7 separate regions of the Homo sapiens genome follow, and regions 1, 2, 3, 4, 5 and 7 are each linked to region 6. The links come from fine-mapping of genetic effects on gene expression. A gene starts in region 6. Each other region holds a variant in brackets. All regions are shown on one strand. Distances are from middle to middle.

Region 1 (4,506 bases), 180 kb after region 6:
CTCCCAGTGGTACAGCTTCTCCCCTGTGTATCTCAAGTCATCCATACTTCTTAGGCTCATCCCCTCTAAACCTTAAGCAGTGTCCCAATCCCCATCTTCTTGAAAGTACCTGATGAAGAATGGAGTCAGCTGGGCCCAGTGGCTCACGACTGTAATCCCAGCACTTTGGGAGGCCGAGGCAGGTGGATCACCTGAGGTCAGGAGTTCCGGACCAGCCTTACCTTTACGGTGAAACTCCCTCTCTACTAAAAATACAAAAATTAGCCAGGCATGGTGGCGTGTGCCTGTAGTCCCAGCAACACAGGAGGCTGAGAGAGAAGAATTGCTTAAACCCAGGAGGTGGAGGTTGCATGAGCTGAGATCGCGCCACTGCATTCCAACCTGGATGACAGAGTGAGACTCTGTCTCAAAAAAAAAAAGAATGGGGTCAATCTTCCTGAGGGTAAGTACCTGCAATGTCCTGTGTAGTGTCAGCCAATCCCACTTTCCCCTACATCTTTAATGTTCTGGGCACTCTCTCCTGTTTTCATACCTGGGTTGATTCCATTGATCTCCACGGTGATGGGGTGTTTTGAGGGGTACAAACTGGAGGAGCAGGTCCAGGTGCCAAGCCCCTGGGCCAGCTGGGAGCAGTCAGTTCCAGAGTGAGCCAGCCCAGTGGCCAGGGAGAGCACCGCAGCCTCATAGGAGTCACTGGCAACTGGATTTTCCCGGCTCACAGCTGGGAGGCCAGACCCTCGTAGCATCTTCCTCAGGAGCCTGTGCAGGGATATGTAAGCAGGGACCCCCTCCGCAGGAATCTGTAGGAAGGCTGCACCATCAACTCTCAACTTTGCCAGACAGCTCTTTTCCAAGTTCCCATTCTCGTGGTTCAGTATAGCCTGGAATTGAGAGAGCGCCTTGCGGAAGTGGTAGCTTCTCATCTCAGGGGTGGGAACGGGGAAGCAGCCTGCTTTGAGAGTCTGAGGCAGGATGCTGAGGCCAAAGCAGTTGAGGATGATGTTACCAGGGAAGCCAGCCAAGGGGCAGTGGCCAGGGTTCTGGGAGGCCCACCACCAGGCCTGGCCCCCAATCAGCAGCCCCCCACCCTCAGCCACAAACTCCTGCAGCTGCTTAGCCTCCTTGTCACTGTACGCCTTGCAGCAGTAGACACACAAGTCGCTGTTCAGATGGGGCTCCAGGCTGCATTGCAGGCCATGCTCCGATAGGAGAGGACACAGATCTTTTAGATTTGTGTTCACCCCAACTTTGCCTGTCTGGCCTCTGGCCAGCCAGCGCACCGCATTGAGCAAGAAGGGCCCCATCTTGGGAGCACAGAGCAGGCACTCGTGGGCAGCCAGGACCACCCGGCCCCGGCCATAGTGAGCAGCCGCCAGGAAGCAGTTGAGTGAGGCATCCAGCCCCAGAGGGAAGGCCAGGGCTCCATGTACAAGCAGCTGTGAGGGGACTCCCCCTGTCCTGATGTCCAGCTCTGAGATCCCCTCCAGGAGCTGCTGCTGGTCCTGCCTGACATCCTCCCCATACCTGGAAGAGACAGGAGAAACAATGAGGCTACAGTCAGTTAATGAGCCACTGAATCGAACTCATTGAGTAGAGAAATCTATGTGCAGGTAAGAAGATTGCACGGTTCATGTCAATCTTCACATTCTTACTAATGTTAGGATTTTAGCATGCTAATATCATTTATTTTTATCATGTTTAAGGCATATTTTTTCACTGTTTTTACAACTGATGGCATATTATCATTTAATTGGCAACGTTTAGTCTTTCTTTCTTTCTTTTCTTTCTTTCTTTCTTTTTTTATTTGAGATGGAGTTTCGCTCTGTCGCCAGGCTAGAGTGCAGTGGCACAATCTCGGCTCACTGCAACCTCCACCTACCGGGTTCAAGCAATTCTACTGCCTCAGCCTCCCGAGAAGCTGGGACTACAGGTGCGTGCCACCACACCCAGCTAATTTTTGTATTTTTAGTAGAGACGGGGTTTCACCATGCTGGCCAGGATGGTCTGGATCTCTTGACCTTTTGATCCGCCAGCCTCAGCCTCCCAAAGTGCTGGGACTACAGGTGTAAGCCACCATGCCCGGCCTGGTCTTTCTTAGTGATACATAAAATAATGGCATTTCTCACAATCAATTTGTCATAGATTTGAGGAAACGCTATAGAGGTAGTGCCCTTACTTGCATATCTTAAAATCCACATTTTCTAAATGAACACCTCCAGGAATTCCTCCCATTTAGTCAACTATGTGTTGAATATTTTGGCTTCAGTTTCTTGACTTTTAAAATAATTAAACATATAAACAAGTTAGAAAAACTAGTTTATTATGCCCAGAGAATGTGGTACTGCTTATGAATTTCTCGATCTAACTTTCTGCAAAGGAAGGCTGTAAAAACACCAAATCTGGACTCTCCGTAGGGTAGTTCTGATCTAGGAACACATCACAATTAAATTGTTTAACACTACGCTTGAAGATTTATACAAACACACACTGTTTTTAAAACTTCACTTAGATCTGGTTAGAGTATTCACTTCTTCTTCTTAAGGAATGGTCAAAATGTAATGAATCAAGAAAAGGCTTTGTATTTCAAGAATTTTTTTAAAACAATTTGTATATACTGTAAATGTCAAGCAATAGGAGGTTGGTTAAATAAATTATGGTTAACAATAGATTGCAAACCATATAGTGATTAAAATAAATATTAGGTAATTTGAAAAATGCTTAATGGAAAAA[G/C]TTTTAAAATTAGATTCCAGGATACCATGCTCTAAATAAGCCAAATTTTGGGGTAAAAAAAATAAAAAACCAAGAAACCAGACATAGAAGCAGAACCTAAAGCATATTTATCAAAATATCTTTGTTTAAAAAAAATGTCTTCAGTGGTCGTCTTGGCTGGTGGGATTTTAGGTCATTTTAATTATCTTTATAAAACTTTATTCTCTCAAATTTTAAAATTAACATCTATTTCTCTTATAATTAAAAATTAAATGTTATATTTTTTAAAAAGTATAGTTTATTTATTCCAGTAGTAACACATTATTGAAAAATGTAACTCTTGTGCAGATTCTCTTTAATTTCTTTTCAGCATGAAAATGAGGAGATGGCATGTCTTAGTTTTGTCATCCCATTTTCAGACTCACATGGCAAATGTCATAGAGTTCAGGTATCAGTTCTGCCTGTGGCTTTTTGTTACCTGTTGGAACTCAAGATATTTTGGGGAGTTAATGACATTGAGCTACAAGACTTAATAATGAAAAATTCCACTCGAAGTGTTCTTAGCATCTTCTCACAGGCACCTGGCAAAGCCTCAGCTAATGGTAGTAAAACTTCAATATGGAAAGCTGCAGTTACTTGCAGATATCCTCTCCACAGCTAATTAAAATGACTGCATATATTCATCCACATGCCCACACACACAAACTACAGTAGCATTGGGAATCTAGGAAGTGACTAGAATGGTTGACAAAAGCTGCAAGAACCACATAGAATTAAAGAAAAAAACCAACAACTTCTTAGCATAAAGGCAGCATAAATAAAGTTAAAGAAGGTGAGGTCACTGAGAGACAAATATTTGTAACAGACTGAACAGATACAAAATTAGAATTCAGAATATATGAGTAATTTCTAAGGATAAACAGAAAAGCAAAAAACAGAAAATATTTTTAAAGTATATTCTCAAACAGTTCATGAAAGATGAAATCCAAGTGAGATATTCAGCATTTGAAAAGATATAATCACACAAATGCAAATTATATATAATAACATATTTTACCCAGAAAATTAGTAAATGTTTCAAAAGCTGACAATATTAAGTGTTGGCAAGAGTGTGGAGAAAACTAATCTTTCATAAAAACTGGAGATCATTTTGGCAGTATCCAATAACATTAAAAAGAGAAACAGCCTATAGTAGTATAAATGGAGGCAGTACTAGGAAGTTCATTGCAAATTGTTGGTAATAGTGAAAAAATATGAAGAAGTTAAATGTTTACTAATATGAATGCAAATAAAAATTGGCATTTAATCATATGATGGATTACTATTTATCAGTCAATAAGAATAGGTCCACCTATGTTAATTAACAAGGAAAGATGTTCAAAATATATTTGTTGAGTAAAACAATTTCAAAAATAGCAGAACTTGGTGATGCAACTTATGGAAGACACAATATAAAGCAAAGTAAACATACGTCAATATATGTCCAAAATGTCAGGGAACAACCACAATAAACTGATAAGAGTGTTTTCTTTTGGATTGTGAGATAGAGAGAAAGGACTGACATTGAAGGAGATGATGAAAAGGGCTTTTGCCTCAATAATTTGTTTCTTCAAATAAGGAGAATGTACAATTATATTTCTCAGGTAATCAAACATTAAATTTAAAATTTAAGATAACTGCTCCAAAAATAGAAGTAAAATGTATAATCTACAAATGTGTTGAGGAAATTTAAGAAATGGATAAAGCTTAGTAGCAACCAAGGAAAAATGTAAAAAGAAATAAAGCATAAAAATAGAA
Region 2 (4,506 bases), 150 kb after region 6:
GTTAAAAGATTAATAAAATTTAGCAAACTCAAACAGAAATTAAAAGGAAAAGAAAAGGCATAAATTTTAAATACCATAATGAAACAGGTGATATCACTACAGACACCACATATAACAAAGGACAATCAAGGAATATTACAAACCACTCCACACACATAAATTAGACAACTTAGACAAAATGGACAAAATGCAGTGTTCCTCCTGCAACACAAGCAAACTCAACTCACCACGCATGAATAGATCATTTGAATAACTCTATAACCATTAAGAAAATTGAATTCATAATTTTAAAACTACCAGAAAAGGAATCTCTAGGTTTAGATGGTTTCACTGGAGAATTCTACCATGTTTAAAAAAAAAAACACCAATTCTACACAATCTTTTCCAGAAAACAGAAAAGGAGAGAACACTCCCCAATTTATTTTTTGAAGCTATTATTACACTGATACCAAAACCAGGAGAGAGAGTGGGTGTGTGTGTGTATATGTAAAGATATGTATAACTTAATATTAACAAATAGAGTTCTACAGTATATTAAAAAAATGTACCCCATGTCCAAGGGGGGTTGTTTCCAGAAATACAAGCCTGATTAAGTCTCAAAAAGTCAATCAAAATAATCCACCATGTTAACAAACAAAAGAAAAGTTACGTTGCATCAGTTGATGCATAATAAACATTTAACAAATTTAACACATTTCAATATCCATTCATGATAAAATCTCTCTATAAAGCAGGAATAGAGGAAACTTTATCCACTTGATAAAAAGCATCTACAAAAAGCTAACATTATACAGTCATGTGTTGTTTAACGATGCGTTAAATGATATGTTCTGAGAAATGTGCTGTCAAGTGAATTTGTCATTGTGCAAATGTCGTAGAGTGTACTTACAGAAACCTAGGTGGTATATATAGTAGCCACTATACACCTTGGCTATATGGAAGAGCTCATAGCTCCTACGGGACAAACCTGTGCAGCATATTAGTGTAGTGAATACTATAGGCAATTGTAACACAGTAAGTGTTATGTTTATGGTAACAATTTGTAATAGTCACCAACTGTGGTATTTATGTAACTAAGTATATCTAAATACATGAAATGTACAGTAGAAAATATAAAAGATTTTTAAGATGGTACACCTGTATAGGGAACTTACAATAAATGGAGCTTGCAGGACTGGAAGTTGCCTGGGCGAGTTAGTGAGTGAGTGAGTGGTGAGTGAATATGAAGGCCTAGGACATTACTGGCTGTGGGTTTGTCACAGATAGCTCTTATTATTTTAAGATGTGTTCCATCAATACCTAGTTTATTGAGAGTTTTTAGCATGAAAGGCTGTTGAATTTTGTCAAAGGCCTTTTTTGCATCTATTGAGATAACTGTGTGGGTTTTGTCATTGGCTGTGCTTATGTTACGGATTACGTTTATTGATTTGCATATGTTGAACCTGCCTTGCATCCCAGGGATAAAGCCAACTTGATGGTGGTGGATAAGCTTTTTGATGTGCTGCTGGATTCTGTTTGCCAGTATTTTATTGAGGATTTTTGCATCGATGTTCATCAGGGATATTGGCCTGAAATTTTCTTTTTTTGTTGTGTCTCTGCCAGGTTTTGGTATCAGGATGATGCTGGCCTCATAAAATGAGTTAGGGAGGAGTCCTCTTTTTCTATTGATTGGAATAGTTTCTGAAGGAATGGTATCAGCTCCTCTTTGTACCTCTGGTAGAATTCAGCTGTGAATCCATCTGGTCCTGGGTTTTTTTTGGTTGCTAGGCTATTAATTACTGCCTCAATTTCAGAACTTGTTATTGGTCTATCCAGGGAATCGAGTTCTTCCTGGTTTAGTCTTGGCAGGGTGTATGTGTCCGATAATGTATCCATTTCTTCTAGATTTTCTAGTTTATTTGCGTAGAGGTGTTTATACTATTCTCTGATGGTAGTTTGCATTTGTGTGGCATCAGTAGTGATATCCCCTTTATCATTTTTATTGTGTCTATTTGATTCTTCTCTCTTTTCTTCTTTATTAGTCCAGCTAGCAGTCTATTTTGTTCATCTTTTCAAAAAACAAACAAGCAAAAAAACAGCTCCTGGATTCATTTTTTTAAAAGGGTTTTTC[G/A]TATCTCTATCTCCTTCAGTTCTGCTCTGATCTTAGTTATTTCTTGTCTTCTGCTAGCTTTTGAATTTGTTTGCTCCTGCTTCTCTAGTTCTTTGAATTGTGATGTTAGGGTGTCAGTTTTAGATCTTTCCCACTTTCTCCTGTGGGCTTTTATTGCTATAAATTTCCCTCGAAACACTGCTTTAGCTGTGTCCCAGAGATTCTGGTACGTTGTGTCTTTGTTCTCATTGGTTTCAAAGAACTTATTTATTTCTGTTTTAATTTTATTATTTACTCAGTAGTCATTCAGGAGGATGTTGTTCAGTTTCCATACAGTTGTGCAGTTTTGAGTCAGTTTCTTAATCCTGAGTTCTAATTTGATTGCACTGTGGTCTGAGAGACTGTTTGTTATGATTTCCCTTCTTTTGCATTTGCTGAGGAGTGTTTTACTTCCAATTATATGGTCAATTTTAGAATAAGTGTGATGTGGTGCTGAGAAGAATGTATATTCTGCTGATTTGGCATGCAGAGTTCTGTAGATGTCTATTAGGTCCACTTGGTCCAGAGCTGAGTTCAAGTCCAGAATATCATTGTTAATTTTCTGTCTTGTTGATCTGTTTAGCATCAACAGTAGGGTGTTAAAGTCTCCCACTATTATTGTGTGGGAGTCTAAGTCTCTTTGTAGGTCTCTAAGAACTTGCTTTATGAATCTGGGTGCTCCTGTATTGGATGCATGTATATCTAGCATAGATAGCTCTTCTTGTTGCATTGATCCTTCTACCATTTTGTAATGCCTTATTTGTCTTTTTTGATCTTTGTTGGTTTACAGTCTGTTCTATCAGAGACTAGAATTGCAACCCCTGATTTTTTTTTTTTTTTTTTTTTTTTTTTGCTTTCTATTTTCTTGGTAAATCTTCTCCCATCCCTTCATTTTGAGCCTGTGTGTGTCTTTGCACATGAGATGGGTCTCCTGAATACAGCACACCGATGGGTCTGGACTCTTTATCCAATTTGCCAGTCTGTCTTTTAATTGGGACATTTAGCTTGTTTACATTTAAGGTTAATATTGTTATGTGTGAATTTGATCGTGTCATTATGATGTTAGTTGGTTACTTTGCCTATTAGTTGATGCAGTTTCTTCATAGTGTTGATGGTCTTTACAATTTGGTACATTTTTGCAGTGGCTGGTACCAGTTGTTCCTTTCCACATTTAGTGCTTCCTTCAGGAGCTTTTGTAACACCGGCCTGGTGGTGACAAAATCACTGAGCATTTGCTTGTCTGTGAAGGATTTTACTTCTCTTTCACTTATGAAGTTTAGTTTGGCTGGATATGAAATTTTGGGTTGAAAATTCTTTTCTTTAAGAATGTGAGGGCAGGGATGCAGCTGAAAAGCTGGCGGCCCAGACAGAAGTCTGCCCCAAGCAGCCTGAGCCCTCAGGCACCCCCCAGCTCCCTGGGAGCTCCCCTCCACCTGCCAACGTCAGTGCCACACTGGTGTCTGAAAGGAAAAACAGGAACAGGACAGACTAACCTTTTAAATGACGTGAAAAAATCAGAGGTGAAAATTGTACATTTGGAATGTATTTATGTAAATTTTGTTGAAATTTAGTGTAAACAAAGATTTTCTCAGTGGTCTAGAAAATAAAAAAGAAAAAAAAAAGAAAAGAATGTGGAATATTGGTCCCCACTCTCTTCTTGCTTGTAGGGTCCTGCCAAGTCTGCTGTTAGTCTGATGGGTTTCCCTTTGTGAATAACCTGACCTTTCTCTCTGGCTGTCCTGAACAGTTTTTCCTTCATTTCAGCCTTGGTGAATCTGATGATTATTTGTCTTGGGGTTTTTCTTCTCAAGGAGTATCTTTGTGGTGTTCTCTGTATTTCCTGAATTTGAATGTTGGTCTGTCTTGCTAGGTTGGGGAAGTTCTCCTGGATAATATCCTGAAGTGTGTTTTCCAACTTGGTTCCATTCTCCTGGTCACTTTCAGGTATACCAATCAAACGTAGGTTTGGTCTTTTCATGTAGTCCCATATTTCTTGGAGGCTTTGTTCATTCCTTTTCATTCTTTTTTCTCTAATCTTGTCTTCATGCTTTATTTCATTAAGTTGATCTTCAATCTCTGATATCCTTTCTTCCATTTGATTGATTCAGCTATTGATACTTGTGTATGCTTCACAAAGTCATCGTGTTGTGTTTTTCAGCTCCATCAGGTCATTTATGTTCTTCTCTAAACTGGTTATTCTAGTTGGCAATTCCTGTAATGTGTTTTCAAGGTTCTTAGCTTCCTTGCATTGGGTTATAACATGCACCTTTAGCTCAGAGAGGTTTGTTTTACCTACCTTCTGAAGCCTACTTCTGCCAATTCATCACTCATTCTCCATGCAGTTTTGTTCCCTTGCTGGCGAGGAGTTGTGATCCTTT
Region 3 (4,506 bases), 56 kb after region 6:
GATGTATCACATTTGTGATTTACATATGTTAAACCATCCTTGCATCCCTGGGATGAATCTCACTTGATTGTGGTGAATTATTTTTTCAATATGCTGTTGAATTTGTTTCACTTATATTTTGTTAAAGATTTTTGCATCTATGTTGATAAAGGAGATTGGCCTGTAGTTTTCTTTTTATCAAGTTATCCTTGTCTGGTTTTGATAATGTTGGCCTCATAGAATGAGTGTGGAAGAATTTGCACCTCTTCAACTTTTTAGAATAGTTTGAAAAGAAGTGATATTATTATTTACATGTTTGGTAGAACTTAGCAGTAAAGTCATCAGTTCCTGGGCTTTTCTTTGACGGGAGACTTATTATTACTGATTCATTCTTGTTACACATTATTGGCCTGTGTAGGTATTTTATTTCTTCATAGTAGTTCAACTTTGGTAGGTTGCATGTGTCCAGGAATTTATTTATTTCTTTTAGGTTTTCCAGTTTATTGGCATATAATTGCTCATAAAAGTCTTCTATGATCCTTTGTATTTCTGTGACATCTCCTTTTTTAGCTCTGATTATATTTATTTGAGTCTTCTCTTTTTTGTTAGTCTAGCTAAAACATTTGTTTATCTTTCAAAGGACCAACTTTTTGTTCTACTGATTTTTATATTATTTTCAGGCTCTATTTCACTTATTTCTGCTTGATCTTTATCAGTCTTCTCTTCTAGTAGTTTAGGGTTCAGCTGGCCCTCGTTTTTCTCATTCCTTGAGGTGCCACATAAAGTTTTTATAAAAGATTCTTATACTTTTTTGATGTAGGCATCTATTGCTATAAACTCCCTCTTAGAATAGCTTTTGCTGTATCCCATAGGTCTTGGTACATTATGTTTCCTTTTATTTGTCTCAAGGAATTTTTAAATTTTCTTTTTAATTTCTTTATTGATGCCCTGGTTTTGTAAAAACTTGTTTTTAGTTTTCACATATTCGTATATGTTCCATAGTTCCTCTTGGTATTCATTTCTAGTTTTTATTGCATTGTGGTAAGAGAAGATACTTGATAAGATTTTGATTTTTTTGATTGCTTGAGATATGTTTTGTGGACTAACATATATTCTATCGTGGAGAAAAGTTCCATGTGCTGTTGAGCAAAATGTACATTCAGTAGTTATTGAGGGGAATGTTTTATAAATATCTGCTGGGGCTATTTGGTCTAGAATGTAATTTAAATCTGATAATTCTTTGTTGATTTTCTATCTAGATGATCCATCCATTGCTGAAAGAGGGTGCTAAAGTCCTTTTTTATTTTATTTTAATTTTTCTCTCCCTTTAGATCTCATAATATTTGCTTTATATATTTACTTTATATATTGGGTGTTCTGGTGTTGTGTGCTCATATACTGACAACTGTCCTAACCTTCTGCTGAACTGATTTCTTTATCTTTCTTTATATAATGACCTTCTTTTCTCTTTTGACAGTTTTTTACTTAAAGTCTATTTTGTCTGATGTAAGTATTACTACCCCTGCTTTGTTTTGGTTTCCATTTTCACAGAATTTCATTTTCTCTTCTTTCACTTCAGTCTATGTGTGGCCTTATAGGTGAAGTGCCTATCTGGTAGGCAGCATGTTGCTGAATCTTGTTTTTTTTTTTTTTTAATTTAATCCATTCAGCCACGGCGTATGTTTTAATTGGGAATTTATTTCATTTACATTCAAAGTTATTATTGATAGGTAAGGACTTCTGCCATTTTGTTCATTATTTTCTGGTTGTTTTGTTTATCCTTTGTTCCTTTCTTCCTCTCTCATGTTTATCTCTGTGGCTTGATTAGGGTATTTGTTGTGTTAAGCTTTGATTCCTTTCTCTTTCTCATTTGTATATCTGTTGTAATTTTTTCTTTGTGATTAGTATTGGGGTTACATTAAAAATCTCTCATACTTATAATAGACTATTTTAAGCTGATAACAAGTTAACTTTCATTGCATACCAATACTCTAGACTTTCATTCTGCACCCAAATTTATAATTTTGTTGCTTTAATATACATCTTTATATATTGTTTATTCCTTAACAACTTATCATTGCTATAATCATTATTACAATTTTCACTTTTTGGCATCCCACAGAGCTGCATTTTTTTAATTATTATTATTTTTTAAATGGGGTCTCATTATGTTGCCCAG[G/TATG]TTGGACTCAAACCCCTGGGCTCAAATGAGCCTTCCATTTCAGCCTCCTAAATAACTGGGACTACAAGCACATGCCACAGCACCCAGCTGTTTTGGCCTTTAACCTTCATACTAGAGGTTTGAAACATTACATATCACCATTGCAGTAATGAAGCATTATGAATTTGATAATGCATTTATCTCCAGCAGTGAGATTTATACTTCATGTTTTTTTATGGTAGCAATTATCATGAAAACTTTTTTTTCCAATAGAAATACTCAAGCATTTCTTGTAAGTCTGGTCCAGTGGTAATGAGTTCCCTCAACTTTTGCTGATCTGGGAAAGACTATTTCTCCTTCATTTCTGAAGCAAAGATTTGCTGGTATAGTATTCTAGGCTAGCAGCTTTTTTTCTTCTAGTATTTTAAATATATCATCCCATTCTCTCCTGGCCTGCAAGGTTGCTGCTGGGAAATCTGCTAATAGTCCAATGGCAATTCCCTTATATGTGACTTGATGTTTTTCTCATGCTGCTTTTAGTATTTTTTTCTTTGTCTTTGACTTTTGACAGTTTGGTTATATGCCTCAGAGAGGACCTCTTTGAGTTGAATCTTTGTGGGATCCTTTGAACTTCATGGATCTGGATGTCCATATCTCCCCAAGACTTGGGAAGTTTTCAACTATTACTTTGTTAAATAAGCTTTCTTTGCCTTTCTTCATCTCTTCTTCTTAAGTTGCCAAAATGCAAACATTTGTTCACTTATGGTGTCCCATAAATGCCATAGGCTTCTTCATTCCTTTTTTTTTTTCTTTACCTCTGACTGGACTATTTCAAAAGGCCTGTTTTCAAGTTCAAAAATTCTTCTGTTTGATCTATTTTGCTGTTGAAGCTCTCAATTGCGTTTTTTTATTTCATTCATTGAATTTCTTGGCCCCAAGATTTCTATTTTGTTCTTTTTTATGATATCTCTCTCTTTGTTGAATTTCTCATTCAGATCATGAACTGTTTTTCCCGATTGTTGAATGATCCGTTTGTGTTCTTTCATGTCTCACCAAGTTTCCTTAGGCTCACTATCTTGAATTCCTTTTCAGGCAATTCATAAATTTTTATTTTTTTATTGGGGTCAGTTACTAGAGAATTATTGTGTTTCTTTGGTGGTGTCATGTTCCCTTGCTTTTTTATGTTTCTTGTATCCCTGCACTGGCATCTGTGCATCTGATGGAATAATCACCTTTTCTAACTTGGTAGCATAACTTTCAGCGGAAAAGACTTACACCTGCAGATGTGTCCTAGCATGTTGGTTGGGTAAGGTACATTTGTTTTTGTTCTGGGTGGATGCAGTAGTGTAGTCTCCATGCAGCTTCTTTAGCTGTAGTTAATGTCAGTGGTGCCTGCAAGTACCTCAGTGGCCTTGGCTGCAGAAGTTTGTGTGGCTGGTATGCCCACTCAGCTGCTTGTCCCCTGAAGGCTGGGCACTTAGCTGGTCTGTTTTCTGAGGATCCATGGCTGGTAGGTTCTCCTTCGGTGCTTATCTCTTGGTGGCTGCATAGTGAGCTGGTCTGTGCTCTAGGGAAGTGCAGGGCTGGTTGTCCAGTAGCTCTGCTCAGTTGCTGCTCCTCTGGAGGCAAGGCACCAGACTGGTTCATACTCACTACCAGGTTACCAGGTTTTTTGTGTCCTACTATCCCTAGTTTCTTGGTAACTGTTCCTTCTCCATCTTCATTAACATTTCTGTCTGAAGGTAAATATTTGTATAATACAAAGACCTTTTCTTACCTGAATTAGCATCTGTCCTATTTTCCATGTATCATAATAGAGATTTACCCTCACAAATGGGAGTAGTTTCCAGATTGCCCATGTTATCACAGAAATAACCCAAATTATTTTATCTTCTGCCACACCACTGAGTCTGAATTTCTGTAAAGAGAAATTGAAATATGTCATGAGTTTACTTTCCTCTGTTGTCTAACTCCCATAGTCAACTGGAGCTCTCTGATGAGTATTGGCCTTGCAGCCAATCTTCAAAGCAGTATTTATCAGAAACACTTCCTATCTCCTCTTCACGGGATTAATCTGATCTATTTAGTGCTTAAAGCAATGTCCTCACCCAAGGTCAAAACCTCACCTAATATATGTACCTAACAGGCCAACAGGTAACTAGGCCTTAGATGTTGACTCTTTTTTGCCAACAAAAGTAGCAGACTCTATCCCTTCTTTCAAGACTATTTCCCTCCTCTGTTCTCTACTCCTTACAAAGCCTTTGTACTCCTGCTTGGCTTCTACTCTTAAAATGATTTCTTTCTTTGACCCACATCATTGCAGTCAGTCTTCAATAGGGAGTGGGCAGAAGGTGATCTTCAACTTCTCA
Region 4 (4,506 bases), 120 kb after region 6:
GTTATGGAGGCAAGGGAAACAGGCCCTTGAAAAGAAGGTAATGCGGAGTGGGTAGCCTCAGTATTGATTAAGAAGGGGACGGGCTTACCTTCCACTGTGAGAGTTACCCGAAGCTCGGCGTCCCTGATGGTCTAGGGGGCTTCCGAGGCGATTGGGCAGTGTCAGTCTTCAGCCGCTAAGCCGAGAAGATCTGGGAAGGAGTCAGTCAGAGAGCCTTGGGCCAGAGTTCCAGGGGCTCTGGGAGTGGCTGCCAGGTGAGTTGAACAGTCCGATTTTCAGTGGGGTCCCACACAGATGGGACGCGGCTTAGGAGGAATCCCGGGCTGTGGGCATTCCTTGGCCCAGTGGCCAGATTTCCAGCACTTGTAGCAAGCTCCTGGGGGAGGAGGTTCTGGAGGAACGCCTGGCCGCTGCAGTTCAGGCATTTGGAAGTTCTTGTGTGCTGGAGATGTGGCTGGGGTTTGTCTCACAGTGGAGGCAAGGAATTGCAACTTTTTTCTGTTATTGTACACCTTGAAGGTGAGGTTAATTAAGTCCTGTTGTGGGGTTTGAGGGCCAGAATTTAATTTTTGGAGTTTTATTTGATGTCGGGAGCAGATTGGGTAATAAAATGTATTTTGAGAATAAGACGGCCTTTTGACCTTTTAGGGTCTAGGGCTGTAAAGCGTCTCAGGGTTGCTGCCAAACGAGCCATGAACTGGGCTGGATTTTTATATTCGATGAAAAAGAGCCTAAACGCTTCTGATTTGGGATAAAGAAAAAGGAGCATTAACCTTGACTATGCCTTTGGCTCCAGCCACCTTTTTACGAGTAAATTGCTGGGCAGGTGGGGGAGGGCTAGTCACGGAACGAAACTGTAAGCCGGACCAGGTGTGAGGAGGGGAGGTGATAAAAAGATTATAGGGTGGAGGAGCAGAGGCTGAGGAAGAATTGGGACCTAGCTCGGCCTGGAGAGGAGCAGCCTGGGGAGGAAGGGAGAGGTCAGATGGGTCTGTAGAAAAGGAAGATTAGAAAGACTCAGCGACGCTTGGGGTTGGTACTGAGGGGACAGGTGGGAGGGAAAGAAGGAAGATTTGGGACAAGTTGCACTGGGCACAGAGACTAGGAAGGGACTGATGTGTAAAAGAATGCCTGGACGTCAGGCACCTCAGACCATTTCCCTATTTTATGACAAGAATTATTTAGATCTTGCAGGATGGAAAAATTCAAAGTGCCATTTTCTGGCTATTTGGACAAATACTGTCGAGTTTGTATTGGGGTCAAGCGGCATTGCAGAAGAAAATAAGGCATTTAGGTTTTAGGTCAGGTGTGAGTTGAAGAGGTTTTAAGTTTTTGAGAACACAGGCTAAGGGAGAAGAAGGAGGAATGGAGGGTGGAAGGTTGCCCATAGTGAAGGAGGCAAACCCAGAGAAAAGAGAGCGTAGAGACACGGAGGGAAGGGGTTTGGGGGTTCTTACCCTCCCGAAAAGCAGGAAGGGGGGTCGGGGCATGGAAATAAGGGATTGGGGCACAGAGATAAGAGGTTGGGGCACAGAAATAAGGGATTGGGGCGCAGAGATACGAGGTTGGGGCATGGAAATAAGGGATTGGGGGATCTTGCCCCCTAGAAAAGCGGGACTTGCCGCTAAGGGTGAAGGAGAAGGGGTTGAGGGGTACTTGCCCCTCCCCCAGAAAAGCAGAAAAGGGGTAGAGACAAGGAGAGAAGGGGTTGGGGTACTTGCCCCTTCCCCAGAAAAGCGGGACTTGCCGCTAAGGGTGAAGGACCAAGGCAGGCATCCCTTCGTGGTCTGACACCTTTGAAACGTGGGT[C/G]AATAATCAGAGAGGCTTCCCTGCAATGATTAAACACCAAGGGAAGGCTGCCTTCCCAGTCTGTGACTGGCGCCGGAGTTTTGGGCCCACTGGTAAAATGTGTCTCCTTTGTCTCTCCCAGAAAATGAAAGGAATTGAAATTAAGAGAAGGGAGAGAATGAAGAGTGGAAAGGAGAAAGTGGTTGAGGGACAGTGAGAGAGGTTGGAGAAAGAGAGTAAGAAGAGGCCGCTTACCTGATTTAAAATTGGTGAGATGTTCCTTGGGCTGGTCGGTCTGAGGACCTGAGGTCGTAGGTGGATCTTTCTCACGGAGCAAAGAACAGGAGGACAGGGGATTGATCTCCCAAGGGAGGTCCCCCGATCCAAGTCACGGCACCAAATTTCATGCGCGTCCATGTGAAGAGACCACCAAACAGGCTTTGTGTGAGCAATAAAGCTGTTTATTTCACCTGGATGCAGGTGGGCTGAGTCCAAAAAGAGAGTCAGCCAGTAATTTTTTAAAATTATTATTATACTTTAAGTTTTAGGGTACATGTGCACAACGTGCAGGTTTGTTACATATGTATACATGTGCAGCCTCAGCTTTTTTAAGACCAGGCTGCTGACACTTTTGCCAATATAATTCTCTCAGAAATATTATGTGTTTTCTATGTATTTGATTCCATTTAACTCCATGTGCCAAAAACACACCACAATTCTGGGTCTTAAAAAAATGAAATAGGCTGGGTGCGGTGGCTCATGCCTGTAATACCAGCACTTTGGGAGGCCAGGGTGGGCAAATCACCTGAGATCAGGAGTTCAAGACCAGCCAGGCAAACATGGTGAAACCCCATCTCTACTAAAAATACAAAAATTAGCTGGGCATGGTGGCACATGCCTGTAGTCCCAACTACTCAGTAGGCTGAGGCAGGAGAATCGCTTGAACCTGGGAGGCAGAGGTTGCAGTGAGCTGAGATTGTGCCACTGCACTCCAGCCTGGGTGATAGAGTGAAACTCCATCTCAAAAAAAAAAAAAAAAATAGGCATACCATTACAGCCTTGCTATATTTTTAGAACACATACGAGTCCCAATGAACAGAGGTCTGTTGAGCCACAACGACAGAATTATGGTCCTTTACCTAATTCCCAGAAATGGTTCCATTAGACCCAGATCCCTCCAATGAAGGAGACTAGGTTACTTCAGGGATAAATACTGCTATAATAACCACAAATGAGGTACATGAACCTTCTTCCAAGCCTTCGCCAAAGGGTTCTAGTACTACTTACTTGGTTTAAATAGCTGTGAAAAAATGCCCCAGACTTTCAGGAACTACTGGATGCTGCCTCTGAGGAAATACTATTTCCCGAGGATGACCAATTACCACTGCTTCCCCCTATCAGAGAAAGGGCTCCTGAGACTCAAGAAACAAATTGGATCCTGTCCAGTTTGCCTCAAAATAGGTCAAACAGTTCCCTGAACCCATATGGTTGTCATTCTCCTGGTTCTTGAATGTATATTTGGCAACGATATTCTTAACAATTGATAGAAGTCCGTTTTCTGATAATTCAGAGAAGACATTCTCTTTCTTTTAAATGCCAGCCTCGAAAGTATTTAGAGAATATCTTCATATTTTTCCTCAGACTTTGATGCCTTAGAGTTTCTGATATCACATTCTTTCCTGAATATTCGCCTTGGGTCTTTTCCTCTGGGTGAGCTTGAACTGGTCAACATGCTTGTTGAAATGGTGCCCAGAATAGCATGGATTATTTCAGAGATGATATGAAAAGGGAATATGCTTGGGGATTATTAGTTCCTGGGAAAGAAGCATTACTAATGTAGCTAACATGGAAGTTTGTGTTTAAAGATATATCACGTTACTCATTTTCAACTTATGAACAACTAAAGGTACAGAGATTTTTCACTTCATTTATTAACAAGACAGAGTTTTCCTATCCCATGCTTGTAAAATTGATTTTAAAAAATTTTTTAGGATAAAAAGTGACATATGTTCACTAAATGAAAGTTGAAAATGTGAAAAAATGAAAAAAAAACCATCATCCATAAGAATAGGTGTCATTTTCTCAGCAATGTTTGCTCTTCATGATTTAAAAAAATACAAGCATGATTATAAAATTGAACATACTAATTCTAAAATTATTTTTTTCTGATAGAAGTAATATACAATATTACTAATAGTAGAAAAAAATTAAATATGGGAAAATATAAAGAAGACAGCTTTTCCCACAAATGATATTGAGTATTTCTGCCTGTGTTTATTTGCCATCTGCATATCTTCTTTGGTAGAATGTCTAATAAAATATTTTGAACATCTTAAAAATCAAATTGTTCATTTTATGATTGAGTGTTGTTGTTGTTGTTGTTGTTACATAGCCAAGTAAGATTCGCTAAATCTTCATTTGGCATGGCAAAGGTAACTCTACTGTTTCCATGGAAAATTGCTCTAAAAACCAACAGAGAAAGTCTCAGAAAAGTCCCCTTTCCGTGGGTCCAACAGTGTTCCTCTACCTTGTTTTCTACCCAATCTCAACTTTTCCTTAAAAGAAAATCAAAACGTATCTATAGATATACATGTAAATAGAAATCACTTTCTGAAATACTAATTGAAAATTTAGAACTATACCCTTAGAATTTTGTGAAGACCACAGAGTGAATGAGAATTATATTGCTCTTATCACCTAAAATATAGCCAGTTTTAC
Region 5 (4,506 bases), 530 kb after region 6:
TTATCTCATCCTGTGACTTAGAATGCCATAACCGTCTGGGAACACAGCCCAGCAGGTCTTAGCCTTGTTTTACCCAGCTCCTATTCAAGATGGAGTTGCTCTGGTTCAATTGCCTCTGACAGGGGAGCCCCCCGTGTGAGCTGCTTCAGTAGAGTGAAGATGCCAGATTGGGTAAGTTGAGGAGTGCAGAGAAGTAAGGAAATGGAGAAGATGAGTGCCGGCAGCTCTTTCAAAAATTTTGGCTGTGAGAGAAACTAGAGCTCCAGGAAGAGAAAGATCAAGGGGCAAATTCCAGCTCCCACCTTAGAAGGAAGACATTGCTTGCATTCCTTGGCCCTGCCCCCAACACAGTTTTCCACCATCAGTAATAAAATTCAGGCTTGACTACCACTAGCCACCTCATGCATATACATGAACAAAGAGGTTGGAAAGGAAATTCTTCTTTAAGTTAAAGAGAGAAACACCCAGCACCTGGCGTTCAAAATTTCCAGTGTCCTTTGGACCTTCCTGCCTGTGTGGGTGCCCTGGCAGGATAATTGTGATTGATTGATTCAGTGAGTGAACAGCTTTCAAGTGGACCCCCACCCAGGAGAGCAATGCCTTGTCCCTATTAGCTTATCACCATCACAAAACCTTAACCAAACGGTGGTCTGAACCTATACACTAGGATTAAGTACCCATTCTTAAATGAGCTCTGAACTCCTAAGTTAGAAAGAACAATGGTCTTTTTTTTTCTTTTAATTTTATTGTGGTTGGTAAGAATGCTTATGAGGAGATCTACTCGCTTAAAACTTTTTTTTTTTTTTTGAGACGGATTCTCGCTCTGTCGCCCAGGCTGTAGTGCAGTGGTGCGATCTCAGCTCACTGCAACCTCCACCTCCTGGGTTCAAGCAATTCTCCTGCCTCAGCCTCCCGAGTAGCTAGGACTACAGGTGCCCACCACCATGTCCGGGTAATTTTTGTATTTTTAGTAGAGACGGGGTTTCACCGTGTTGGCCAGGCAGGTCTCGAACTCCTGACCTCAGGTGATTCACCCTCCTCGGCCTCCCAAAGTGCTGGGATTACAGGCGTGAGCCACCGCGCCCGGCCAAAACATTTTTTTAACCTGTTTTATCTGCAAGAAGTTGAACAGTCTCCATAAGCAAAAAGATTATGAGGCCTGAGCTTATTTCAACAGGGCTTAATGTTATAATAAAAGTCATAGAAAAATAATGTAACATAGCTTTAGGGGTGCATCTTAGGATAGGGAAAAGAATGTTAGACTAAGAATTAGAGGACCTGAATTTTGGTTACAGTTCAGCCACTTACTAACTCAGCCACTTACTAAGTGTGTGACTGTAAAAATCTGAGAGGTGAATTTTCCTTGTCTGTGGAAGTACAGCAAGGAACTTGATTTCTAAGTATTCAACCAGTTTTAACACTCAGTCATCTGTAACTAATGCCCTATATATCCACCACTCTTTCACTGTCGGGAAAATGCCTTCACTGTTTTTTCTCTGGACTTGATTGGCTCACTTAAATAAAGACATAGCCAACTGGAGCTACATCTACCCACTATGTATTAAACACATTATTTAGGAACAGGATCAGTTGCAGGAAAGGATAAAAGGTTTCAGGTAGTTAGACTTTGTAGGTGAAACAGATCTCCGTCCAAACAAGTGTTTGTAAGAGGAATCCAAGCTGAAGTTGCAGGATATCCCAAAAGCTAGCAAAGGAAAAGAACTGGGGAACTCAGAAGGAAAATATATCCAGGAATCTGAGAGGTAGGCTGTCAGCTGTGCCTGGTGATAGAGAAGTCTGACAGGTAGTAATAGAGCCTCAACCATCAGGCTGTGGTTCAGAGGCAGAAGCTGGGGAGGATGGCTTGTAAGCACAAGGCAGGAGCTCTCTCCTAGAGGAATGTGCATACAGGTGAGGGCTAAAGGGTCCCAGCAGGGGAGACAGGGAGGCTTCAGAGGTGTGATATGACATCTGTTGCCCCTCTCCCCTGAGTTCATAAATACTAGACAGGCAGGCATCGGAGACAATCAGGACAAGCCTTCCAGTTCCTGGTTCTCATTGGTTCTCCATGGAGGAAGGAATATAAAACTGGCAGATAGGCCTACTGAGGCTGGAACAAACAACTGCCTTGTATTCTTTATTTGATCTTTCCCTCTCTTTGTCAGTGCTCTGGGATTGGCTTGACCTTTAAAAATCCCATCTGGTTCTTCTCTCTGGGATTTATGAACTCCATTTTTTACTACCCACCTGGCCTCTGACTCATGGTTGCCCAGACTCTATGCCCTGCCTCCTTGGTCCTGGCATCCTGCCTGGTCGCTGCTGCTTGTGGCCTGGTCATGGTGAGGACACCCTGAGGTGCTGTGTGTGCTTGGGACCTGACCAGGAAGCAGCAGGAAAGCGCTGACATTCTTCCAGGCTCTCTGGCAGATATGCAGGCGCGATCTGCTGGCTTGGCCTTTCTTATCAGAATGTTTGGATGGAACCCCTAAATCTGCAGTAGGGGTTGCAGGCTTTCCCACAAATGTGCTTCCCAAAGAAAACACAGGGCAAATGCATCCCCTTGGTCATCTGAAGCATAGGCTCTATGACAGTCACCAAAGAAGCAGTTGTCTGGGCATTCTCTTCTGCTGAATCCTACAGAACGTGATTTGGGGACGTTGACCTGCCCATGCAGGAGGGCTTTGGCTCATGGAGGTGTGCGCCTGGGGACTACACTAAGGAGAATGTGCCTGCCACGTTTGCCCATGCCGATAAGCTTTCTTTCTTTCTTTCTTTTTGAGATGGAGTCTTGCTCTGTTACCCAGGCTAGAGTATAGTGGCGTGATATTGG[C/G]TCACTGCAACCTCCACCTCCCGGGTTCAAGCGATTCTCCTGCCTCAGCCTCCTGAGTAGCTGGGATTACAGGTGTACACCACCATGCTCGGATAATTTTTGTATTTTTAGTAGAGACGGAGTTTCACCATATTGGTCAGGCTGGTCTCAAACTCCTGACCTCATGATCTGCCCGCCTTGGTCTCCCAGAGTACTGAAATTACAGGTGTGGGCCACCGTGCCCAGAGATAAGCTTTCTTTTCTAACTAAAAGTGGGAGTGAGCTCACCTTAGATCCCCAATATTTTACAAGATTTCAAACCTTGTCTAAAAGTCAAATGAGCATGTCCTGTGCTGGTCTCTTTCATAGTGTCCAACAGATCAGAGATTGGTAATGTGAGGGCTTTTTGTCCCCACCACCAACGCTGAAACCACAGAACTTCTGCCATGGACCCTCTCATCCTCTATAACTAACTGGCTGAGCCATCCTTCCTCAGCAAACTTGCTGTGCCCCAGCACAATGGCCAGGACCCTCATCTGTTGATTACTCTGGGAAACCAGCTGGGGATGGCAGGTAGGGGTCGGGGGAGAACTATATCGACCACTAGGACAGATTCTATGGCCACTTCCTACTATGTGGGAATACAACTTACACACTACAAACATCTGCACTCATCCATGACTTGCCTCTGAGTCTGCCCCTGTGTATGAATGGGGTCCCTTGTCAGCAACCTAATGCCCCTAAACCCCACTCTTGGTCCTCCTGTTGACTGAATATTTAGGAAATCATTCTCATTTTAAAGAAAACAGACCTCAGGCTAGGTGCATTGGCTCACACCTGTAATCCCAGTACTTTGGGAGGCCAAGGCGGGCAGATCGCCTGAGGTCAGGAGTTCGACACCAGCCTGGTCAACATGGTGAAACCCCATCTGTACTAAAAATACAAAAATTAGCCAGTCATGGTGGCGGGTGCCTGTAGTCCCAGCTACTCTAGAGACTAAGGCAGTAGAATTGCTTGAACTTGGGAGGTGGAGGTTGTAGTGAGCCGAGATCTCACCACTGCACTCCAGCCTGGGTGATAGAGTGAGACTCTGTCTCAAAAAAAAAAAAAAAAGAATACAGACCTTTGTTACTGACCCTCGTGATTTCCACCTAGTCCCCAAGACTATTCTTACCAATGTTTTCCAGCATCAGCACTCTCACTTCTGGCCTTTAGCAAATAGGGTATTTGAGAACCACTAGGAGTGCCCCAAAGCTGACTGATCTTCAGGGCTGCCTGAAGATAGATACTCTAACACCATACAAGGACATTGATAAGTAGGGACTAAGACACTTATCATCAGTATTTTATGAAAGCACCAAAGACTTATTGCTACAAATCACTCTGAAGAAAGATCATTGCTTTCCCATTTCAAAATTTAGAAATGTAGATAGATGTATTCCTCTCTTCAGTTTATGGTCCCACCTTAATTAAAAAAAGACAAGCGTGAAAGAACGTGTATCCATTCAAATGTCCTGAGTTGAGTAACTTTAGTTTTTTTAAGTGAACAAATAAAGCACTTTCTACAACATCCAGAATAGATTTTCCCTCTGAGGAGCTGAGTTTAAATGCTGGCTTTTTTGGCCAGGTGCGATGGCTCACACCTGTAATTCAAGGACTTTGGGATCCTGTGGCAGGAAGATTGCTTGAGGCCAGGA
Region 6 (4,506 bases):
AGGGGAGACTAGATTTGCAGGGAAATGAGGAGAGAACACACAACTTGGAGATTTGAAGAGCAAAGGAGACAAGGGCCAAGGAAATCATGGAAGAAGTCTGGAAGGATCTGTCCATTCTCTGGTAATGGTGAACATTCACATAGGGTTTTCCATGTGCCAGACACTGCTTTAAGAGCTTTATCTGTATTAAGTCATTTAATCTTCATAAAAATTCCATGAAGTAGAGACAATTATTATCCCCAATGTTACAGATGAAAACACTAAGATAGAAGTTAACAAGCCCTCTGTGATAGGCAGAAAAATAGCTCCCTAAAGATGTTGATATGGTTTGGCTATGTGCCCCCACCCAAATCTCATCTTGCAGCTCCCATAATTCCCACGTGTTATGGGAGGGATCTGGTGGGAGATGATTGAATCATGGGGGTGGGTCTTTCCCCAACCGTTCTCATGATAGTGGAGAGGTCGCAGGAGATCCGATGGTTTTAAAAACGGCAGTTTCCCTGAACAAGCTGTCTCTTTGCCTGCCGCCATCCACATAAGATGTGACTTGCTTCTCCTTGCCTTCTGCCATGATTGTGAGGCCTCCCCAACCACGTGAAACTGTGAGTCCAATTAAACCTCTTTCTTTTGTAAATTGCCCAGTCTGGGGAATGTCTTTATCTGCAGTGTGAAAATGGATTAATACAGATGTCCAGATCCTAATTCCCAGAATTTGTGATACGCAATGCTACATGGCAAGGGAGAATTAAGGTTGCAGACAGAATGAAGGCTGCTAATTAGCTGACCTTGAGATGGGAAATTATCTAGATTATCTGGATAGGCACAATGTAATCACAAGGTCCTTCTAAGTGAAAGAAGGAAGCAGGAGACTCAAAGAAGGAGATGTGACACAGAAGCAGAGGCTGGAGCCATGAGATTGCTGACTTTGAAGATGAAGGAAAGGGCTGCAAGCCAGGGAATGCGGGAGCCTCTGGAAGCTGGAAAAAGCAAGGAAAATAGATTTGTCCCTAGATCCTGCAAAGAGAAACACATCCCTGCCTACACCTGGATGATAGCCCAGTGAGACCTGTGCTGGACTTCCAGGACCTACAGTCCTGGAAGATAGTAGTAAATCTGTGTTGTTTTAAGCCACTAAATGTGTGAAAATTTATCACAGCAGCCTTAGCAATGAATACACTGCCCAACTTGTAAGCAGAGGATGTGGTGGCTTCAAAGTCCAGGCTTTTTCCCTGCTACTCCTTTCTTTCTTTCCTCCCTCATGCCCAATATCTGTCATCTGTTGATTGGTTAGTAACATTCTCAACGCCTTACTGTTTTATTAAACTTATAAAAACAATGTATTGGTTTAAAAAAAAACAATTCAGTGGTTGTGAAGGTAAGAATCAATAGACAATTTCTCCACCGTTAGCCCCGCCTCTTATAGAAGCACATGCAGCATGTCTTCTTCATACACGAATGTAATGCTAAAGCTGATGCAGTGGCTCAGGCCTGTGATCCCAGCACTTTGGGAGGCCGAGGCGGGAGGATCACTTGAGCCCTGGCGTTCGAGACCAGCCTGGGCAACAAAGTAAAACCCTGTCTCTAACAAAAAATCAAAAAGTTAGCTGGGCGTGGTGGCGGCGCACTTGTGGTCCCAGCCTCTGAGGTGGAAGGATCGCTTGAGCCTGGGAGGTTGAAGCTGCAGTGAGCTGTGATGGCACCACTGCACTCCAGCCTGGGTGGCAGAAGCAGACCCTCCCCCTGGAGGGGAGGGGAGGGGAGGGGAGGGGAGGGGAGGGGAGGGGAGGGGGAAAGAGAGATCCTACTCTCCATTTTAATACAACTTGCTTTTTTAATTAAAAACTATAGCTAGAACCGATAGATTTCACTCGTCCTTAAAAATAGTCCTGTATTATTTTATATAAACATCTCTCGCTATTTATCAAGGCCGTCACTTGTTCAGAAGTATTCTCACTTTTGTTTTGTTTTGTTTTGTTCTTAACAATTTGCTCCCTATATTCCTGGGCTGGCGCCTAGGCCTGCATCCGGGATTTGGCGCCACATCTGCGGGCAGGGCCTCTGAGGTCTAGGGGAGGGACGGCGCCGGCCAAGTCCCGCCCCCGTCCGCGTCGACCAATCAGCTCCCTGGAAGGCCCCTCCTCACCACCCCCCACCCCCGCAGTCTCCGCCTAAGACTTTCCAAGTCCTGTAGTTTCGAGCCCGCTGCCCTTTGCCTCCTGGGCGGAGAAGCTGCTTCCTCCTGGGAACAACCGCCTCCCGCTCCTAGCAGGTTGCTACTGCCCCGAACCCGCGCTGCAGGGAACAGCGGGGCAAACAGTGAGTGGGGTTCAGCGTAGACTCTGGACCAGGAGAGGCCCGCGGTGACCGAGGCCTGGGCCCCGGGTTAGTGTCCGGGGCGGGGAGCGGTGGGCGGGGTGCGACGTTTAGCGTCTGGGGAGGGCCGGGCGTGGATTGCGGCCTCTGCGCGCGCCCCCAGGTGATAGAGCCGTTCCACCGAGGATCCCTTCCTTCGTCTCTACCCCGTTGATGATTTTTCTCTGCAGCTCGGTGCCTATTTCATTCTCGCCGCATTGTTATGCCCTCTGCTGGGCAGGAGGCGATGACCCCCCCTATTTTCGTAGGATTTGTTTTTTGCTCCGCAAGGAGCCATTAAGATCTGAGCTAGCAGGAACCCTCGAGGCGATTTGATCTCGCCAGCTGGGGGCTTGCATTCTTCTAGGCTAGCTTGTCTCCGTTAAGCCCAGGTGGAAGTTCTCATCCACCCCAGTGCTCTAGGCGCCCACGGGCGCAGTGTGGGTTTGTGGTGGGGGAAGGGACCTGGGGAGGGGTGGCGGTGAGAGCGGCGCGGGGATTCAGGCTGAATGTTAGTCTGGAATGCATTTGGCCTGAAGCAGCAAGTGCTGGGTGATACAGTTCCCTGGTAAACAGCCGAGAGCTGGCCGCTAGTTTGGCCCAACCTGCAACGGAAGAAGGCCTTAAGTACAGGAGAAAAAGATCTTTGCCAATTGGATAATCATGGAAATTTAGAAGAAGTACAGCTCGAACTAGACGTAAAGGACAGAATGTGTCTGTCTAGCTGACCAGCCAACCATCGGTCCATCACTTTCATCCTCCAAACTAGTGATTTGTTGATGAATTGGTTTCAATACTTTGTTTTAAAATGTTGAATAAAAAGTAAATGAAATATCTCAGAATGGTCTAAAAAATAATGAAACGAATGCCTGACCATCTCCTTGGGTCAAGAAATAGGGCGTCACAGTACCTTAGAAGCCCATGAGTCCCAACTGATGCCCATGGTCCATTCTCCTCCATTCTCTGAGATGTGACATCTTTCGTGATTTTTGTCTTAATTTAATGAATCCCTTGCTTTTCTTTTTAGTTTTACCATATTTGTGTGTGTATTCCTAAAACATATGTATTGGCTTTCTCATTATAATGACATTATATTAATGACATTATCCTGTACGTATTCTTAAGTTTTATAGATTCATCTTTCATGCTTCCTTCCATTTTCGTTTTCGTCATTTAAGGTGTAAATGTACATAATTTATCCATTCTACTGCTGATGGACATTGGATTGTTTCTACTTTTGGAGGTGTATGATTTATCTATAAGCTATGTAACAAATTACCCCAACACCTAGCAGCTTCAAACCAAAGCGAACAAACAAAACAAGTCCTGTTACCTCCTATCTTACAGTTTCTGTGATCAGGAATCCAGGAGGGGCTTAGCTGGGAGTCTCTGACTCAGGGTCTCTCACAAGCTGTATCAACAATCAAGGTATTGACTGGGCCTCAGTCATCTCAAGGCTAGGCGTAGGGTCGAGGACCTCTCCCAGGCTTACTCACATGACTGCTGGCAGGCCGATTGGCCTCACTGACCCTGGCTGTACACATCAGTTCTTTGCCACATGGGCCTCTGTATAAAGAATGGTTGCAACATGGCAGCTTACTCCCCCCAGAGAGAAGGCTCCCACAGAGAAAAAGAGAAAGACAGAAGTCAGATTCTTTCTGTAACCTCAGAAGCGACATCCCATTATTTTTGCCATTTTATATTCATTAGAAGTGAGTCCCTAGGCCCAACTCACACTGAAGGGAAGGGGGTGACACAAGGACATGAACACCTGGAGGCAGGGATTATCGGGGCCACTTTAAAGCCTGCCCATGTCCTCTAATATTCAAGTACACTTGTGTGGGAGCTTCCCTAGAGTATATAGCTGGGAGTAGAATTGCGGAGTTATAAGATTTATGTGTATTCAATTTTATTGGGTCATTTCTAAACTTTCCAAAGTGTTAAACCAGTTTGCACTCCCTCCAGCAGTGGATGAGCATTCTTGTTGCTCTACATGCTTGCCACAGCTTAGTCTTGTAAAATTACATTTTTTGTCAGTCTGGCAGGTATGAAATAGCATTTAACTGTGATTTTAACTAGCATTTTCCATAACTAATGAGATTGACTTTTTATATGTTGATCAGTGCTTTCTCTTTGTGAAATTCTGATTCCTGT
Region 7 (4,506 bases), 170 kb after region 6:
TTAGTTCAACCATTGTGGAAGACAATGTGATGATTCCTCAAAGATCTAGAACCAGAAATACCATTTGACCCAGCAATCCCATTACTGGATATACACCCAAAGGACTATAAACCATTCTACTATAAAGACACATGCACACATACTTTTATTGCAGCATTATTTACAATAGCAAAGACTTGGAACCAACCCAAATGCCCACCAATGATAGACTGGATAAAGAAAATATGGCATATATACCATTGAATACCATGCAGCCATGAAAAAGAATGAGTTCATGTCCTTTGCAGGGACATGGATGAAGCTGGAAGCCATAATTCTCAGCAAACTAACACAGGAACAGAAAACCAAACAACACATGTTCTCACTCATAAGTGGGAGATGAAAAATGAGAACAAATGGACACAGGGAGGGAAACATCACACTGGGGCCTGTCGGGAGGTTGGGGGCAATGGGAGGGAGAGCATTAGGACAAATATCTAATGCATGCAGAGCTTAAAATCTAGATGATGGATTGATAGGTGCAGCAAACCACCATGGCACATGTATACCTATGTAACAAACCTGCACGTTCTGCACATGTATCCCAGAACTTAAATGAAAAAAAAAAAAGAACATCAGTTCTGGAGTTGAATTTCCTGAGTTCAAATTCCTTCTCTACCCAAGGCTGGATGACCCAAAGGCAGACAAATCACATTCTGAGGCAGGCAGAAAATCAGATACCAACACCTTTTTGGAAGTTAAACTTGTTATTGAATGAAAATTCAGTAGTAAACATTGGAAAAATCCAGACCTGGTTGAACATATTTTCATCTATTTTCTAGGTGACATTTTGTTTAAATTGTAAACCATTCATGAAGAATAAGTTCCACAATGTTTTCATTGCTATGGGCTTCAATTAAACCCTGGTTCTTCCTTTTATTCACTTTGTGACTTCAAAAAACTTATTTTATGTCCCTTAGTGTCAGTTTCCTCATGTACGAAATGGGGATCATACTAGTACCTACCTCAGAGGTCTGCTGGGAAGATAACATTAAATCACTCACAGTAAATAGCTCACGCAATGCCTGGAACATACTAATCACTCATTATGTGTTAGGTGTCATTACTGTTCTTTCCTTTGACAAATACTTCATGAACACCTTTGATGTGTAGAGCCCCTGGCAAAGGGTACTAGAGAAATAAAAGGAAATTATCTAGAATTGGGAATTTGTTAAATATGCTGACGGGATTCAGCAAAAGACATGCCCTAAATTAGTTCTCCTAATGGGAAGCCACTCTACTCTCAACATAGCCTAAGGAATGATATTCAAAACAAACAACAATATGGTCTAAAAGTAAACTGGAGAAAGTAGCTAGGCATACACTCATTAATCCCAGAGACAAATCTCCAATGAGAACTCCCTCTAACCGAAGAGTCAAGATGGGCTAGAATGAGATTAAGAGAAAGCTCAGGGGATGCTGGGGTGTGGGTTGATTAAGTGAGGATTACATCCGCTGCACCCAGTAATCCTGTTCCAGAGTGAAGCCCACTGTGCCTGTGGACCCCCCACCACTTGACAGTGCCTTGATTCCATGGTGACCAGAGGAGTCAGATGCCTGTTTTGTGGTATGAACGAATGGGCATATAGACTTAGTAGCAGCTGTTAACATGACTTTGTCCTTTGGTTGAAGGGCAAAGGGCAAACCCTGGAAAATGAAGCTAATCCCAAAGACCCAACCTCACAGCTCTGTGACACTCAGTTTCAGCACATGCCACTTTTCTTTGGGTTAGGTTATACCCAAGAATCCTTCCAGAAGTGGGAGAAAAAATGTAGAAAGGGCTAAGATACTGCTGACAACTACCATTATTGATACCATGTCTGGGAAAACATTGACATTCTCTAAATATACAAGGACTGAATGCTAACCCCAAGGGGGTCAACA[C/A]TGAAGTGAGATTCAGCACCCAGGATGTGCACGCTAGACTGGACACCGTTAACAGTCCACTATGGGACCAGGAGAAATCAAACAACAGCTTTGTGAGGAAAAGATTTGTATCCTCATGTCATGGATGTGAAGACAGAAACACAGAGAGGTGGAGTGATTTTCCATAGAACCAAAGCTGGTTTGGGGCTCTCTCCACTATTCCAGCGTGTCTCGCTTGCTATTTGAAAACTTGTTAAAGCATAATAAATTAGAAGCCTTATTCAGGGATGGCAGGGATGAGAAAGGGATATCAGGTTGTTATGGGAACCCGTGGTCTTTAGAGCTATTGGTCAAAAATAGAAGCCTCAGGATGGCAGGATGAAAGATCCTCTCTGGAAGACTAAGAGGTGAAGTGAGTCTCTTGGGGAAAGCAATAGCGTAGGCAGAAAAACAATAAAAAGAAGCACAAGGCACCTTTTACAGAAAGGGGTTCCATTTTTTCTTATGACCGTGGCCACCATCTAGTGGTCAGGCTTGGAAGCGGGATTCAGGCTCCAGATACTGAGCACACGGCCAAAGCCCCATGGTGGAGTTGATGGCGTGACCCTGCCTTTTCTCTCCCGCCTTGTGGGGCATCCTTTACTTCCTGGCACGGAGGTACACTTGCATGGGGTTTTCCTGCCACTCTGGTAGGGAGGCCAGGCTGTCAGCCACCTCCTTCTGGATAGGCCAGCCCCAGGCCTCAAAGAAGGGAACCAGATTCTTCTTCACTTTTTCAGAGAACTTCTTCACCCATAGATTCATCCTGCCAGTGTTGTCTTTGGGGAGGTGAGAGAGGGTCTGGTACTCAGCAAAGAGCTGGGTGAATGGCTCCCACCCGAAGGCCTCTTGGAGCTGAAAAGGGAAAGAAGGAACAGAATGAGGTGTCAAGTTTGCAAAAGTGACGTGACATGTGCGTTCTTAAATATATTTCATTCACATGATCACCTCCCCTCAATCGTTACCTTCATCCTGGGTATGTGCCCCTATCTCCCCACTCTGCCCCTGCACAATAATGCAATCTTGTTGGCTCATTCCTCCTCTTGGCCACAAAACAACACCCCCTGAATCTAGTGGGGGTGCTCAGGGGAAACCTAATGTCTGAATAGAGGTAAATACTCAATAAATGTCCACTATTAGTATCTTTAAACAATTGTCTTCCCAGATCTCAAGTGTTTTCCTCAGCATCAGGACAGGTTTGGGCCTGACTGAGATGAGAAACCCTCACTTCCTACATATCTGGCCTATTGAGATTCTAAAAGCTGCGAACCTCCAATACTATACTTTCCAGACATCATAATAATCCTTATTTTTTAATAGCCATCTTGGACCTGTGGCTATCTGCAATGATACAAAATTGCTCTGTAGAACACTGCATTTAGGGCAGAAAAAGAAAAAAATCCAGCCTGTCTCGAGGGGCTAAAAATGAGAGTGGCTCATACTTCATAAGGGGCAGCTAATGAGAGTGGCTCATACTTCATAAGGGGCAGCTCTCCGGAAAGCCCTTGGCAGAAGGCCCTTGTTTACTAAGATTATACAAATTTCCAGTTAGCGGGGATCTGGGGTTTCACATCCCCACTCTCCCTTTAATAGATGAGCATTCTCTGACTGTAGCTCATAAAAGCCCAAAGACAGATAACACCACCGAAGCCAAGCCTACCTCAGAGTCTCACTGTTGTATCCTTATTATTGCTCATCTGTTCTCACTGGCTTGCTCTTTGACACTTATTAATCAATGCATCAATAAATTAAGCATTTATTAAACGTTTAACATGTATTAGACACCCACACACCGCCAGCTACTGTGCTAGGCAAACATCATTAAGAGCTCTTGTCCTTCTAGAGAACACTGGCCAAAGGGAGAAACACACGTAAATAAACACATTGCTAAAACTGTTGGTTTATCAAGGAGGCGATGTCCAGGAGAGAAAGGGCCAACAGAGCTGAATTTGGACAGGTGACTTGACAGCTAATGGACAAGATGTTCCAGCATGATTCAGCAGCAGGAAGCAAACAAGGGGAGGCACAGAAGCCAAAACAGCAAGCTGTGTCCGTAACCATAAGCAGGTTGGCATGCCGAAGGGTAAATGTGGAGGTGAGAGCAGTAGGAGATGTAGCTAGAGGTGCTGGTGAGGCTGGTCATGAAGGGCCTCCTATGCCCTGCTAATGAGCTTTGACTTTACCCTATATGTGCTAGAGAACACTGTAAGCATTTGATAGACAGAGTATTAACATTATTTTGGAAGGAGTGTAAGGAAGATGGATCATAGAGGATTGAGGCAAGATGCTGGGACAACTTAGAAGGCTACTGGAATACACTGAGGGAAGACTAACGAGGCCTGAGCTAAGGCAGCAGTGGCACGGATGCTGGGGAGAAGCCCTCTAGCAGGAAGAGGAGTCAGAAGGTGCCTGTTTATCCTGAGGCCAAGTCTCAGACTTGGTCTCTCTAGAGCTATTGAGAACTGATATTCGGGGCTCCACAGTGAGTAGGTAGCAGACTAGGACAGAATTAGGGCTTAAACTTACAGTTTAGGGGCAACCTACCATTGTGGTCAGTGGTCCCGT

Direction of the effects. Positions count from the first base shown, and alleles are read on the strand shown. Sizes are in standard deviations (SD) of each study's normalised expression. Not every link is listed here.
For the expression in tibial artery of the gene that starts at base 2,167 in region 6, allele G in region 3 goes with a higher level than allele TATG (small effect, 0.30 SD a copy in GTEx).

What was found. PIP is the estimated chance that this variant, and not a neighbour inherited with it, causes the effect.
Region 1: its variant is fine-mapped to the expression of TCAF1 in whole blood (INTERVAL, PIP above 0.99).
Region 2: its variant is fine-mapped to the expression of TCAF1 in skeletal muscle (FUSION, PIP 0.95).
Region 3: its variant is fine-mapped to the expression of TCAF1 in tibial artery (GTEx, PIP 0.95).
Region 4: its variant is fine-mapped to the expression of TCAF1 in whole blood (INTERVAL, PIP above 0.99).
Region 5: its variant is fine-mapped to the expression of TCAF1 in whole blood (TOPMed, PIP 0.97).
Region 7: its variant is fine-mapped to the expression of TCAF1 in whole blood (TOPMed, PIP above 0.99). The same link has a PIP of 0.9 or more in blood mononuclear cells.

Annotation. Positions count from the first base shown.
Region 1 is chr7:143,716,701-143,721,206 of GRCh38, reverse strand. TCAF2 (TRPM8 channel associated factor 2) reads right to left here. Exons shown (of 8, transcript NM_001363538.2): 3 at 533-1,524. Among named protein-coding and RNA genes, the nearest start is that of CTAGE6, 39 kb to the left of the region's middle. The variant G/C (reference allele first, on the strand shown) is at 2,731.
Region 2 is chr7:143,749,503-143,754,008 of GRCh38, reverse strand. No RefSeq gene overlaps it. Among named protein-coding and RNA genes, the nearest start is that of CTAGE6, 5.9 kb to the left of the region's middle. The variant G/A (reference allele first, on the strand shown) is at 2,111.
Region 3 is chr7:143,843,911-143,848,416 of GRCh38, reverse strand. It overlaps LOC112267988 (a long non-coding RNA gene), which reads right to left. Exons shown (of 3, transcript XR_007060571.1): 2 at 3,915-4,055. Among named protein-coding and RNA genes, the nearest start is that of TCAF1, 56 kb to the left of the region's middle. The variant G/TATG (reference allele first, on the strand shown) is at 2,159.
Region 4 is chr7:143,784,638-143,789,143 of GRCh38, reverse strand. No RefSeq gene overlaps it. Among named protein-coding and RNA genes, the nearest start is that of CTAGE6, 29 kb to the right of the region's middle. The variant C/G (reference allele first, on the strand shown) is at 1,810.
Region 5 is chr7:143,365,976-143,370,481 of GRCh38, reverse strand. It overlaps a transcript of FAM131B not described here. Among named protein-coding and RNA genes, the nearest start is that of FAM131B, 5.5 kb to the right of the region's middle. The variant C/G (reference allele first, on the strand shown) is at 2,831.
Region 6 is chr7:143,899,837-143,904,342 of GRCh38, reverse strand. It overlaps TCAF1 (TRPM8 channel associated factor 1), which reads left to right and starts at 2,167. Exons shown (of 9, transcript NM_014719.3): 1 at 2,167-2,382. LOC105375549 (a long non-coding RNA gene) reads right to left here. Exons shown (of 3, transcript XR_007060574.1): 3 at 2,390-4,506. RefSeq lists a silencer at 2,007-2,146 and enhancers at 2,937-2,986, 2,662-3,199.
Region 7 is chr7:143,725,703-143,730,208 of GRCh38, reverse strand. It overlaps TCAF2 (TRPM8 channel associated factor 2), which reads right to left. Exons shown (of 8, transcript NM_001363538.2): 8 at 1-2,796. The coding sequence ends at 2,542. Among named protein-coding and RNA genes, the nearest start is that of CTAGE6, 30 kb to the left of the region's middle. The variant C/A (reference allele first, on the strand shown) is at 1,924.